Homo sapiens: one gene and its partners. The protein of the gene in region 1 purifies or fractionates together with the protein of each later gene. This does not show direct contact. Each region holds a gene or a part of one and is shown in the gene's direction. Other genes may lie near its edges. The genes, in order: SEPTIN6, RGS3 and SOCS7.

What was found.
Region 2: the proteins of SEPTIN6 (region 1) and RGS3 purify together in Homo sapiens (co-immunoprecipitation; one large-scale study listed by IntAct). This does not show direct contact.
Region 3: the proteins of SEPTIN6 (region 1) and SOCS7 purify together in Homo sapiens (affinity purification with western blotting; one study listed by BioGRID and IntAct). This does not show direct contact.

The regions. Positions count from the first base shown.
Region 1 is NC_000023.11:119,630,594-119,634,241, reverse strand, and holds part of SEPTIN6 (septin-6), read left to right. Parts: intron 1-749; coding exon 750-882; exon of another isoform or gene 883-925; intron 926-3,648. UniProt on the Homo sapiens protein: Filament-forming cytoskeletal GTPase. Required for normal organization of the actin cytoskeleton. Involved in cytokinesis. May play a role in HCV RNA replication.
Region 2 is NC_000009.12:113,466,697-113,470,344, forward strand, and holds part of RGS3 (regulator of G-protein signaling 3), read left to right. Parts: intron 1-3,648. UniProt on the Homo sapiens protein: Down-regulates signaling from heterotrimeric G-proteins by increasing the GTPase activity of the alpha subunits, thereby driving them into their inactive GDP-bound form.
Region 3 is NC_000017.11:38,350,274-38,354,653, forward strand, and holds the start of SOCS7 (suppressor of cytokine signaling 7), read left to right. Parts: upstream 1-1,570; 5' UTR 1,571-1,779; coding exon 1,780-2,759; intron 2,760-4,380. UniProt on the Homo sapiens protein: Substrate-recognition component of a cullin-5-RING E3 ubiquitin-protein ligase complex (ECS complex, also named CRL5 complex), which mediates the ubiquitination and subsequent proteasomal degradation of target proteins, such as DAB1 and IRS1.

The DNA.
Region 1 (3,648 bases):
GCCCACTACGACGCCTGGCTAATTTTTTGTATTTTTTAGTAGAGATGGGGTTTCACCATGTTGGCCAGGCTGGTCTCGAACTCCTGACCTCAGGTGATCCACCCGTCTTGGCCTCCCAGAGTGCTGGAATTACAGGCGTGAGCCACTGCACCCAGCCTATCTCCTATTTCTTTAAAAATAAGCTTAGGCCAGGGGCATCTCCCACTAGACCATGAGTTCCTTGATGGCAGGTATGATGGCTGTTGGCTCTAGAGGCTGAGTGACTAGCATCATGTCAATTAGTACTGAGTCTAGCACATATGGAGTCTCCTCAAGCATTTGTTGAAATAGTTCATTAATGTGGTCAGTTTCAGAGCCAGGGCCTGGCAGCATTGTGCAGTGGGAAAACCCAGATGAAGAGACAGGAGACTCAGCTTCTGGTCAAAGTTCTCCCTCTAACTAGCCGTGGGGCCTTGAGTAAGACACCTCACCTCTCTGGGCCTCAGTTTTCTCATCCGTAGAACAAGAGTATAGAACCAGATATTCTAAGTCTCTCCAGTTCACTAGGGTTGCCCCATCCCCCTCCAGAATCCCTGTGGGCATGCTGTCATGGGCCAAGCCAGGTGCCCACAGCTTTGTGGTTCTATTTTTGTACCTGGCTCACAACTGGGGAAGGGAGGACAGAGGAACCCAGTGAGGATCTTTGGGGCCAGTTTTATCAAATAGGAATCATTCCAAAGGAAGAAGAATTAACCTGACCATGTTCGCAGTTTACAGGAGACATATGAGGCCAAAAGGAACGAGTTCCTAGGGGAACTCCAGAAAAAAGAAGAGGAGATGAGACAGATGTTCGTCCAGCGAGTCAAAGAGAAAGAAGCGGAGCTCAAAGAGGCAGAGAAAGAGGTAAATGTGAGCCTGGTGATTATTAAAATGTCAAGAAACAACAGCTGCTGGTGAGACTGTGGAAAAATAGGAACGCTTTTACACTGTTGGTGTGAATGTAAATTACTTCAACCACTGTGGAAGACAGTGTGGTGATTCCTCAAAGACCTAGAATCAGAAATGCCATTCGACCCAGCAATCCTATAGATCACTTTATTATAAAGATACACACACACATATGTTCACTGCAACACTATTCACAATAGGAAAGACATAGAATCAACTCAAATGCCCATCAATGATAGATTGGATAAAGAAAATGTGGTACATATACACCATGGAATACTATGCAGCCATAAAAAGGAATCAGAGGATGTTCTTTAGAAGGACATGAGTGGAGCTGGGAGCCATTATCTTCAGCAAACTAACACAGGAACAGAAATCCAAACATTGGGCCGGACACTGTGGCTCACGCCTGTAATCCCAACACTTTGGGAGGCCGAGGTAGTTGGATCACCTGAAGTCAGGAGTTCGAGACCAGCCTGGCCAACATGGTGAAACCCTGTCTCTACTAAAAATACAACAATTAGTGGAGTGTGGTGGCACATGCCTATAGTCCCAGCTACTTGGGAGGCTGAGGCAGGAGAATCGCTTGAATCTGGGAAGTGGAGGTTACAGTGAGCTGAGATCATGCCACTGCACTCCAGCCTTGGTGACAGAGCAAGACTCCATCTCAAAAACAAAAAAAAAGAAAGGAAACACTTAATTACTTCACGATTCTCTTCCACATTTAACCTGTCACACTCTCAAGGGTTCTCACCAAAGCCCATGACAAGGGTATTGATTTTTTTTTTCAGTTTCACTTAAAAAAAAAAAATGTCTGTTGGCTGGGCGCGGTGGCTCACGCCTGTAATCCCAGCACTTTGAGAGGCCAAGGCGGGCGGATCACAAGGTCAAGAGTTCGAGACCATCCTGCCTAACACGGTGAAACCCCGTCTCTACTAAAAATACAAAAAAATTAGCCGGGCGTGGTGGCGGGCGCCTGTAGTCCCAGCTACTCGGGAGGCTGAGGCAGGAGAATGGCGTGAACCCGGAAGGCGGAGCTTGCAGTGAGCCGAGATCGCGCCACTGTACTCCAGCCTGGGCGACAGAGCGAGACTCTGCCTCAAAAAAAAAAAATGTCAGACAGGTGCCTTGGCTCAGGTCTGTAATCCCAGCACTTTGGGAGGCTTAAAGCGAGGGGATTGCTTGAGCCCAGGAGTTTAAGACCAGCCTGGGCAACATACTGAGACCCTGTTTCTATTAAAAATAGAAAAAATTGGCTGGGCGCAGTTGCTCACACCTGTAATCCCAGCACTTTGGGAGGTCGAGGTGGGTGGATCACGAGTTCAGGAGTTTGAGGCCAGCCTGGCTAATATGGTGAAACCCTGTCTCTGCTAAAAATACAAAAATTAGCCAGGTGTGGTGGTACGCACCTGTAGTCCCAGCTACTTGGGAGACTGAGGCAGAAGAATTGCTTGAACCCAGGAGGCGGAGGTTGCAGTGAGCCGAGATTGTCCCACTGGACTCCAGCCTGGGCAACAGAGCGAGACTCCATCTCAAAAAAAAAAAATAATTACAAATACAAAAAATTAGCCAGGCATGGTTGCACGTGCCTGTAGTCCCAGCTACCCAGGAGGCTGAGGTAGGAGGAATGCTTCAGCCGAGAGATCGAGGCCACTGCATTCCAGCCTGCGTGACAGAGTGAGACTCTGTCTCAATAAAAAAAACAAAAATGTCACCCAGCACTTTTAGGAGGAGAAGTGAGGGGATCTCAAAGACAAATGAATAAAAGTGCAACAAACAAAAACCAGGTTAAGGCAATTGATAGGCAGCCCTAGTGACTAGTAAGAGCTGCTTTAGGCCAGGCGTGGTGGCTCATGCCTGTAATCCCAACACTTTGGGAGGCCAAGGTGGGCGGATGACAAGGTCAGGAGATCGAGACCATCCTGGCTAACTCAGTGAAACCCCGTCTCTACTAAAAATACAAAAAATTAGCCAGGAGTGGTAGCACGTGCCTGTAGTCCCAGCTACTTGGGAGGCCGAGGCAGGAGAATCACTTGAACCTGGGAGGCGGAGGTTGCAGTGAGCCGAGATTGTGCCACTGCACTCCAGCTTGGGCGACAGAGCGAGACTCTGTCTCAAAAAAAAAAAAAAAAGAAAAGAAAAAAGAAAAGATCTGGTTTATACAGCAAGTCTGTCACTCACCCACCTAAGTGACAGTGCCAAATACCCCCAGGACCCGGAGAACTAACCTTCTTCATCGTATGCTGCAAGTGCTACAGAATCCTAAACTCTCTCCTGAATCCATGAAAGAAAGTGAAATTCGGCTTGCTCTGCTCTTACTATTCAGGGTAGTTTATTGCATTCTAGTTTGTGACTGTCTGTGCCTCTTGTTCTCTGATCCACTTACCACAATGGCATGCCAGAATATTCTTTTTTTTTTTTTCCGAGACAGAGTCTCACTCTTGCCCAGGCTGGAGTGCAGTGGTGCGATCTCGGCTCACTGAAAGCTCCGCCTCCCGGGTTCAAGTGATTCTCCTGTCTCAGCCTCCCAAGTAGCTGGGATTATAGGCAAGCGTCACCACGCCCAGCTCATTTTTGTATTTTTAGTAGAGACGAGGTTTCACCATGTTGGCCATGCTGGTCTAGAACTCCTGACCTTATGCCACCCACCTTGGCCTCCCAAAGTGCTGGGATTGAGCCGACTACTGGGATTACAGCACTCCCAAAGTGCTGGTATTACAG
Region 2 (3,648 bases), on another chromosome or scaffold:
ATATTTGCTGATTTTTCTTGTAACAGCTTTATTGAAATATAATTCAGATATATACAATTCACTCATTTAAACCATACAATTCAATGGTTTTTAGTATATTCACAGAGATGTGTAACTATTATCACAATTTCAGAACATTTTCATTCCCTCAAAAAGAGACATTATGCTCTTTAGCTTGTACCGTCCTCCCTTGTCCCGAGCCCAAAGCAATTGCTAATCTATTCTCTCCCTCTGTAGATTTGCCTGTTCTGGACATTTCATATAAATGGAATCGTATTTTTTTTTTTATGACTGACTTCTTTCACTTAGCATAATGTTTTCAAGTTTAATCCATGTTGTAGCAGATATCATACTCCATTCATTTTTATGGCTGAGTAGTATTCATTGTATGGCTATACCACATTTTAAAAATTTATTCATCTGGTGATGAATATTTTGGCTGTTTCTCCCTTTTGACTATTATGAATAATACTGCCATGAACATTTGTGAACAAGTTTTTGTGTGGACAAATGTTTTCATTTCTCTTCATATACACACAGTATATACCTAGGAGTAGATTTGCTGAGTCCTATGGTAACTCTGTGTTTAACTATTTAGGGAACTACCAAACTCTTTTCCAAAGTAGGTGTATCATTTTATGTTCCCATCAGCTGTGTATATGGGTTTTGGTTTTTCCACATTCCTTACCAACACTTGTTATTATCTGACTTTTTAATTCTAGCTATCCTAGTGGGTGTGAATTGATATTCACTATAGTTTCGATTTGCATTTTCCTGATGACCCGTGATGTTGAACATTTTTTCATGTGCTCATTATTTATATATCTTCTTTGGAGAAGAATGTATTCAGATCTTTTGTTCATTTTAAAATTGGGCTTTTTGTCTTGTTATTATTGAGTTGTAAGATTTCTTTATATATTCTAGATGCAAGCTCCTTAACCGATATATGATTTGCAAATATTTTCTCTCTATCTGTGGGTTTTTTTCACTTTCTTGATAGTGTTCATTGAATCCCAAACTTTTTTTGGGGATGGGGTCTTGTTTTGTTGCCCAGGCTGGAGTTCAGTGGCATGATCATGGCTCCTCTTTGACCATGCAGCCTCAACCTCCTGTGCTTAAGCGATCCTCCCACTTCAGCCTCCTGAGTAGCTGGTACTACAGATGTGCACCACCATGCCTGGCTAATTTTTCTTATGTAAAAAAAACTTTTTGTAGAGATGAGGTTTCCCTATGTTGCCCAAGCTAGTCTTGAACTCAGGGACTCAAGCGATCTCCTGCCTTGGCCTCCCAAAGTGCTGGGATTATAGGCATGAACCACTGTGTCCAGCCAGAACCCCAAACATTTTTAATTTTGATGAAGTTCAATTTACTTTATCTTTTGTTACTTGTACTTTGTGTTATATCTCAGAATTCACTGCCAAATCTAAGGTTCTGTCAGTTACCAAGAGATTTACCTGTATGTTTTCTTCTAAGAGTTTTATAGTTTTGGCTCTTATATTTAGGTCTTTGATCCACTTTGAGTTAATTTTTGTGTATGGTATGAGGTAAGAGTTCAACTTCATTGTTTTTTGTGGCTATCCAGTTGTCCCAGTACCATTTGTTGAAAATACCATTATTTCTCTATTGGATGATCTTGGTACCTTTACTGAAAATCAATTGCCCATAAACCCACGGCTTATTTCTAGGCTTTCAATTCTATTCCATTGATCTATCTGCCTATTATCATTCCAGTATCATACTGTCTTGATTACTGTTGCTTTGTAGTACATTTTGAAATCAGGTTGTGTAAATCCTCCAATTTTGTTCTTCTCTTTCAAGATCATTTTGGCTGTCCTGGGTCCCTTGAATTTCCATATGAATTTTAGGCATAATATTTTATATAGAAAATAAAAAAACTCAAGTTCACAAAAATGTTGGATAGATAGTTTTAAAATATCATCTTGAAGGGATACCAACTTATTAGTTTGACTGATGAAGCAAATTATTAATTTACCTGGGGTCTCTGAACCAAATTTTAACTTGCTTGGGATCTCTAGTCACCTGGATATGGTGAGTGGTCAGGAGAGAGAACAGGTTGCCTTTTCTGCAGGGTATCTGGGTCTGGAGATGGTGGGCAAGCTGGACATGTTCTGAGGTCTGCAGGTGGCTGTGGACATTGGGTGACAAAATGCACCTCTCTTTAGAAATGCCAGCCCCCTATGAACCTACAAAATGAAAGCTGTCGGGAGCAGCTCTAAATGTAGGCTCGAGAGGACTGCCTGGAGTCACTGATTTGCCATAGGGAAGTTGGGAAGATGTGGTTCTGGAGGCAGAGTAGACTTAGGAGTGTCATTGATTTGCTCAGCATTTTTTTTTTTTTTTTTTTTTTGCCTCATGTTTGTTGTGTTGGTACAATGTTAGCTGGGGCCTGTTTCACTCCTTTCTCTGCCTCTCTTTAGAAGCCGTGGAGATAAATAATTCATTTTCTGTAGTGAGAGTGAAGCTTGGGAACAGATGTCAGCCAGCTGCGTGGTGTGTTGGGCAGTGCACGGTCAGGCCCTGAACTGGAGGCCTTCAATGTGTCCCTGCCAGCTGCCCCTGGCTGGCACGTGTTTCCAGTCCCACTGCTCTGAGCCTGGGAGATTCCCTGGCATGGTTGGGGAAACCTATCCAACTGTTTCTCAGGAGCTCATCATTTGCTGGTCATACTCCTCAGCATTTATTGGCTTTTCTGTCATTCAGAGTCCAACTGCTCAGGAGCTTTCAGAAATTCCTCAAAGTTTCTGGCCCATAGATAGCCCTTTGTCCTCTTTTCCCATTCTGCTTTGTGTGTTCTTCTTAAACATTTAAAAAAGTTTGAAATATTATACAGACAGACAGAAAAGTGTCCCCCCAATAATGTGCAATCCAGTGACTTCTCACAAAAAAAAAACCTTTGTAACTTTCACCAGAGTCAAAAATTGAACATTTCTAGTATTTAGAAGACGCATGTTGATAATGCAGTTTTTTTCTTTATCATTTACTTCAAAATATTTTCTAATTTTCATTGTCATTTCTTTTTCAATCCTTGGGTTAGTTAGAAGTATATTTCTAAATTTCTAAATATTGGGGATTTTCTGGTAATATTTTTATATTTACTTTGCATTTTAGTCAGAGAATATACTCTCCATCCTTTTAATTCCTTGAAATTAATCAAAATTTACTTGATGCCTCAGCATATAGTTGTTTTTTTTTTTTTTTGTCGTTGTTGTTTTGAGACTGAGTCTTACTCTGTCACCAGGCTGGAGTGCAGTGGCGCAATGTAAACTCACTGCAGCCTCCCCTTCCTGGATTCAAGCAATTCTCCTGGCTCAGTCTCCCATGTAGCTGGGATTACAGGCACCCACTACCATGCCTGGCTAATTTTTGTATTTTTAGTAGAGATGGGGTTTTACCATGTTGGCCACACTGGTCTCGAACTCCTGACCTCAGGTGATCCACCTGCCTTGGCCTCCCAAAGAGTCAATTTTTATAAATGTTCTTTGTGTATTTGAAAAGGATTCTGCAGCAGTTGGGTGCAGTGTTCTTTGTGTATGTCAAGTTTAGGTCAAGTTTGCTCTTTATATTGTTCAAATATTCCGTATCCTTGTTGATTTTTCCTGTTTTCTCTGTCAGTTCCTAAGAGAGGTG
Region 3 (4,380 bases), on another chromosome or scaffold:
GAGAAAAGTCTTGCAAGAAAAGGGAATAGCTTTTCTTGCCCACATGTATGGGAGCCTGCCGCAAGGTTGATGGGAATGCAGGGAACAGAGAACAAGGTGGAGCTTAGCAGGGGATGTGGCTAGAGAGGCAGGGGTTAGATCACACAGGGGTCAGATCACAAGATCACACATTAGCCTAAGAACAATGGGAAGCCATGAACAATTTTAATCACAGGCTATGAACACATTTCCATTCTGAAAAGGTCCCTCTGGTTGCAGGACTCAACCCTCCACCCTCTTCCCCTCAATGCACCCTCAGGTATTAGAAGTCACTGAGTTCTGCAGCTGATCCTTCCTCCTTTTCCCTTGCATCTCTCAATATCTCCCACTGGGACTATTTCAATGGGCTCCCTGCCTCCAGTCTCACCTCCTCCACACAAAAAGCTTGATCTTATTTGATCCTCACAACATGCCTGCAAGCAAGCAAAATTGCAATCCTTATCCCTGTGTAAAGATAAGAAGGCCGGGCGTGGGCGCGGTGGCTCACGCCTGTAATCCCAGCATTTTGGGAGGCCAAGGCGGGTGGATCACCTGAGGTCAGGAGTTCAAAACTGGCCTGGCCAACATGGTGAAACCCTGTCTCTACTAAGAATACAAAAAATTACCTGGAGCGAGGCAGGAGAATTGCTTGAACCCGGGAGGCAGAGGTTGCAGTGAGCCAAGATAGCGCCATTGCACTCCAGCCTGGGCAATAGAGAAAGATTCCATCTCAACAACAGCAAAAACTTAATGTGTTGTCTGTAGCCGTTACATTATGAATAGCACAAAAATTGAGTAAATATTCTTCCAGTATTTGAAACCGTTTTCTGACTCAGCAAAGAAGTTGCTCCCATCATTGACAATCCAATTAAGTTTTGTCTTTTTCAGTTTTATCAACCAACATTCACCTTTACAATTACACTCCTAGGTCAACTGCAATCACAGTTTGGCTACCCATATAAGAGTTTGGCAAAAATCAATGAAAGCATTCTGTGAGAAAGAGTTATATGGAATTTGCCAATTTACTATTAATTGTAAATTGTGAACTACACATCCTTTATGTCAGTAAAACTTAACGACAAATTTTTGTACCTATATATGTGCATACATTCCCGTTCTCCCCCCAGAGAGCTGGTTGTTACACATTTATCAGTACAGCACTGGGTCTAGAACACGATTCATGTACTGATTCCACAAACATTCACTGGGTGCCAGGCGGACGGAGATACAGATTAATGATGAAATGACTCAGCCAAGGTCACACATCGCAAGCGGCGTAGATGGCAGAACCATATGTGCTCCCAAGGCCAGCGGCGCGCTCCCAGGACCAGACCATGGTTTCCAAGGCCTCTCCACTCTACCGAATGGGATGGCCTGGGCCTGGGCGCCCAGGAAGTGAAAAGCAAGGACCGGGAAAAGAGACCAACGCCAGCCAACAGACAGCTCACCGCCAATAGGGGCCGGGGGCGCGCGCGGCGTCACTCGCCGTGGAGGCCAGCGCGAGCACGCCCTGGGGAAAGTGGCGTGGCTAAGCCCTTCCGGAAGTGACGTCGGCTTGGGGGCGGTGCTCGGCGGTGGCGGAGCGCGGCCTGGGCTCGCGCTGGGCTCCGCGCGCCCCCCGCCCCCCTCTATGAGGCAGAGGCCGCGGCGGCCGTTAGCGCTGTCGCTCCGGGGGCCGCGGCGGGCGGGGCTCCGGCGGGGCCCGGCCTAGTCCCCACCCCAGCCCGGCTCCCAGCCGCCCGCCCTCCCTCCCTCTCCCCGATGCAGGAGGCCGAGCTCCGGGATGGCGAGGCGGCGGCGGCGGCCGCTTCGTACCGCGTCCTGAGCCGCCTCCTTGGCTATGGAGAGGCGGCCCCCGAGCCAGGCCCTCCGCCACCGCCCCCGGGCCATGGCCCCCCGCCGCCACCCTTCCTCGCGCGGCCCGGCCCGCGGGGCTCCCGGCCGCCGCAGCTGATGGTGTTCCGCAACGTGGGTCGGCCGCCGGAGGAGGAGGACGTGGAGGCGGCCCCGGAGCCGGGACCCTCGGAACTGCTGTGTCCCCGGCACCGCTGTGCCCTGGACCCCAAGGCCCTGCCGCCGGGCTTGGCGCTCGAGCGGACCTGGGGCCCGGCGGCTGGACTAGAGGCGCAGTTGGCGGCTCTGGGGCTCGGGCAGCCGGCGGGGCCGGGGGTCAAGACAGTCGGTGGGGGTTGCTGCCCGTGTCCGTGTCCTCCTCAGCCGCCCCCTCCGCAGCCCCAGCCGCCTGCTGCCGCCCCGCAGGCCGGGGAGGACCCCACGGAAACGAGCGACGCGCTGCTGGTCCTGGAGGGCTTGGAATCGGAGGCCGAGAGCCTGGAGACTAACAGCTGCTCGGAAGAGGAGCTCAGCAGCCCGGGTCGCGGAGGAGGAGGGGGCGGCCGGCTTCTGCTGCAGCCCCCAGGCCCTGAATTACCTCCGGTGCCCTTCCCGCTGCAGGACTTGGTCCCTCTGGGGCGCCTGAGTAGAGGGGAGCAGCAGCAGCAGCAGCAGCAGCAACCTCCCCCGCCCCCGCCTCCTCCCGGGCCCCTCCGGCCACTCGCGGGTCCTTCTCGGAAGGGCTCCTTCAAAATCCGCCTCAGTCGCCTCTTTCGCACCAAGAGCTGCAACGGTGGCTCCGGCGGTGGGGATGGGACCGGCAAGAGGCCTTCTGGAGAGCTGGCTGCTTCAGCTGCGAGCCTGACAGACATGGGAGGCTCTGCGGGCCGGGAGCTGGACGCGGGGAGGTGAGACCGGCCGGGGGCTGGCCGACAAACTTCCTTTTCTTGTTTGGTTTCCCTTTTTATCTATTGCTATCGCGATCCTGACAGTTCTTAAGATAGGGTCTTCAGGAGGAGGCAGAGACTTGGGACCAAAGGTGGTAACATCTCGCATAAGGTCAGCGCTAATTGTGGAAACAGCTTTCACTCTTAAAGAGTGCACACTCCGTGACACTTCTCAGCTGGTTTGCATCTGTCTTGTTGGAAGATGGTTTCAGACCATCCTCCCATCCCCATCCTGGCATGGCTTTTTAAGTTTTTCCAAGGCGGCTGTGTGCCATTGTCCCTGGAAGGGAGATTGCTGGAAGTGTTTGGCCTTTGGGGCAAAAAGCTGGTGTTGCACCTTGACCGCCTTGCTTATTCTGTGTACCAGCACCGCACCTCCCTTCACACTCATGCATGCAAATGACAGGAGAATCTTCAAATGCAATTGTAGGCCAGCAATCAATTGGACACCTCTATTCAAAGTTTTACTGTTTTCCTGGTTGTTCCCTTAGATGAACTTGGCATATCAAACTTGGGTGCTGACCACTGTCTCTGAGAATAGAAAATAGCAGACCGGGCACAGTGGCTCACACCTGTAATCCCAGCACTTTGGGAGGCCGAGGAGGGCGGATCACCTGAGCTCAGGAGTTTGAGACCAGCCTGGGCAACATGCGAAACCCCATCTCTACAAAACAAACAAACAAAAAATTAGCCCCCATCTCTACGAAAAAAATACAAAAAATTAGGCGGGAGTGGTCCCAGCTACTCGGGAGGCTGAGGCAGGAGGATCACTTGAGCCCAGGAGGCGGAGGTTGCAGTGAATAGTGATCGTGCCACTGCACTCCAGCTTGCGTGACAGAGTGAGAGCCTGTCTCGAGAAAATAGCTTTGCGCTCTCTCAAAGCCTTTTGAGAATTCTAAGTACCAGTAAGATATAGACAAGGTAGAGACAGGTACATGAGTTCTAGGCCGATTGATGAAAATTCCAAACATAGACGTTGAGTTTTTTTCCTGCATTTCTGAGGGGTGGACTGATCTTCGGCATCCAGTGTTACATCTGTAGCGTTGGTTTACAAAGCTGTCAACTTTGGTGTCAGTGAAATTAGTTACCTTGTAGTAACTGCCATTGTGGTTTGTACTTCTTTGGGTTCTCAGAAAGATTGGAATGGGTTTTGTTGTGGTTTACGTGATGGATTCTTGAGACATACTGGCAGCCATAAACCAAAGCTAAAGAACAGGTATAAATTGATAACCTTACTGTGAACTAAGATCACTTGGGGAGCTTTTTGAAAAGCCTAAGAGTTTGAACTTTTTAAAAGCTCCCCAGTTGATCCTGAACTGGGAACCACTCATCCATAGACTTCTGTTTTCAAGGGAACTTGGGTACTCCAACAAGAAAATGTTGGGTGGATTTGGCTTTCTTGCCCTTTCTGAACAGCTGTGCCATGGGCTTATCTTGGGGATGAGGCCAAATCCAAACTTTCTAAAGAAATCAGTGTGTTGTCCCTTTAGGTAGGCCAGTGTTTCTGCTTTGCCTCCCAGTGAATTCATGCTGGGAGTTCAGATCTTGAAAAGTGGGTGGCTGCTGAAACAGCTTTTTTTGT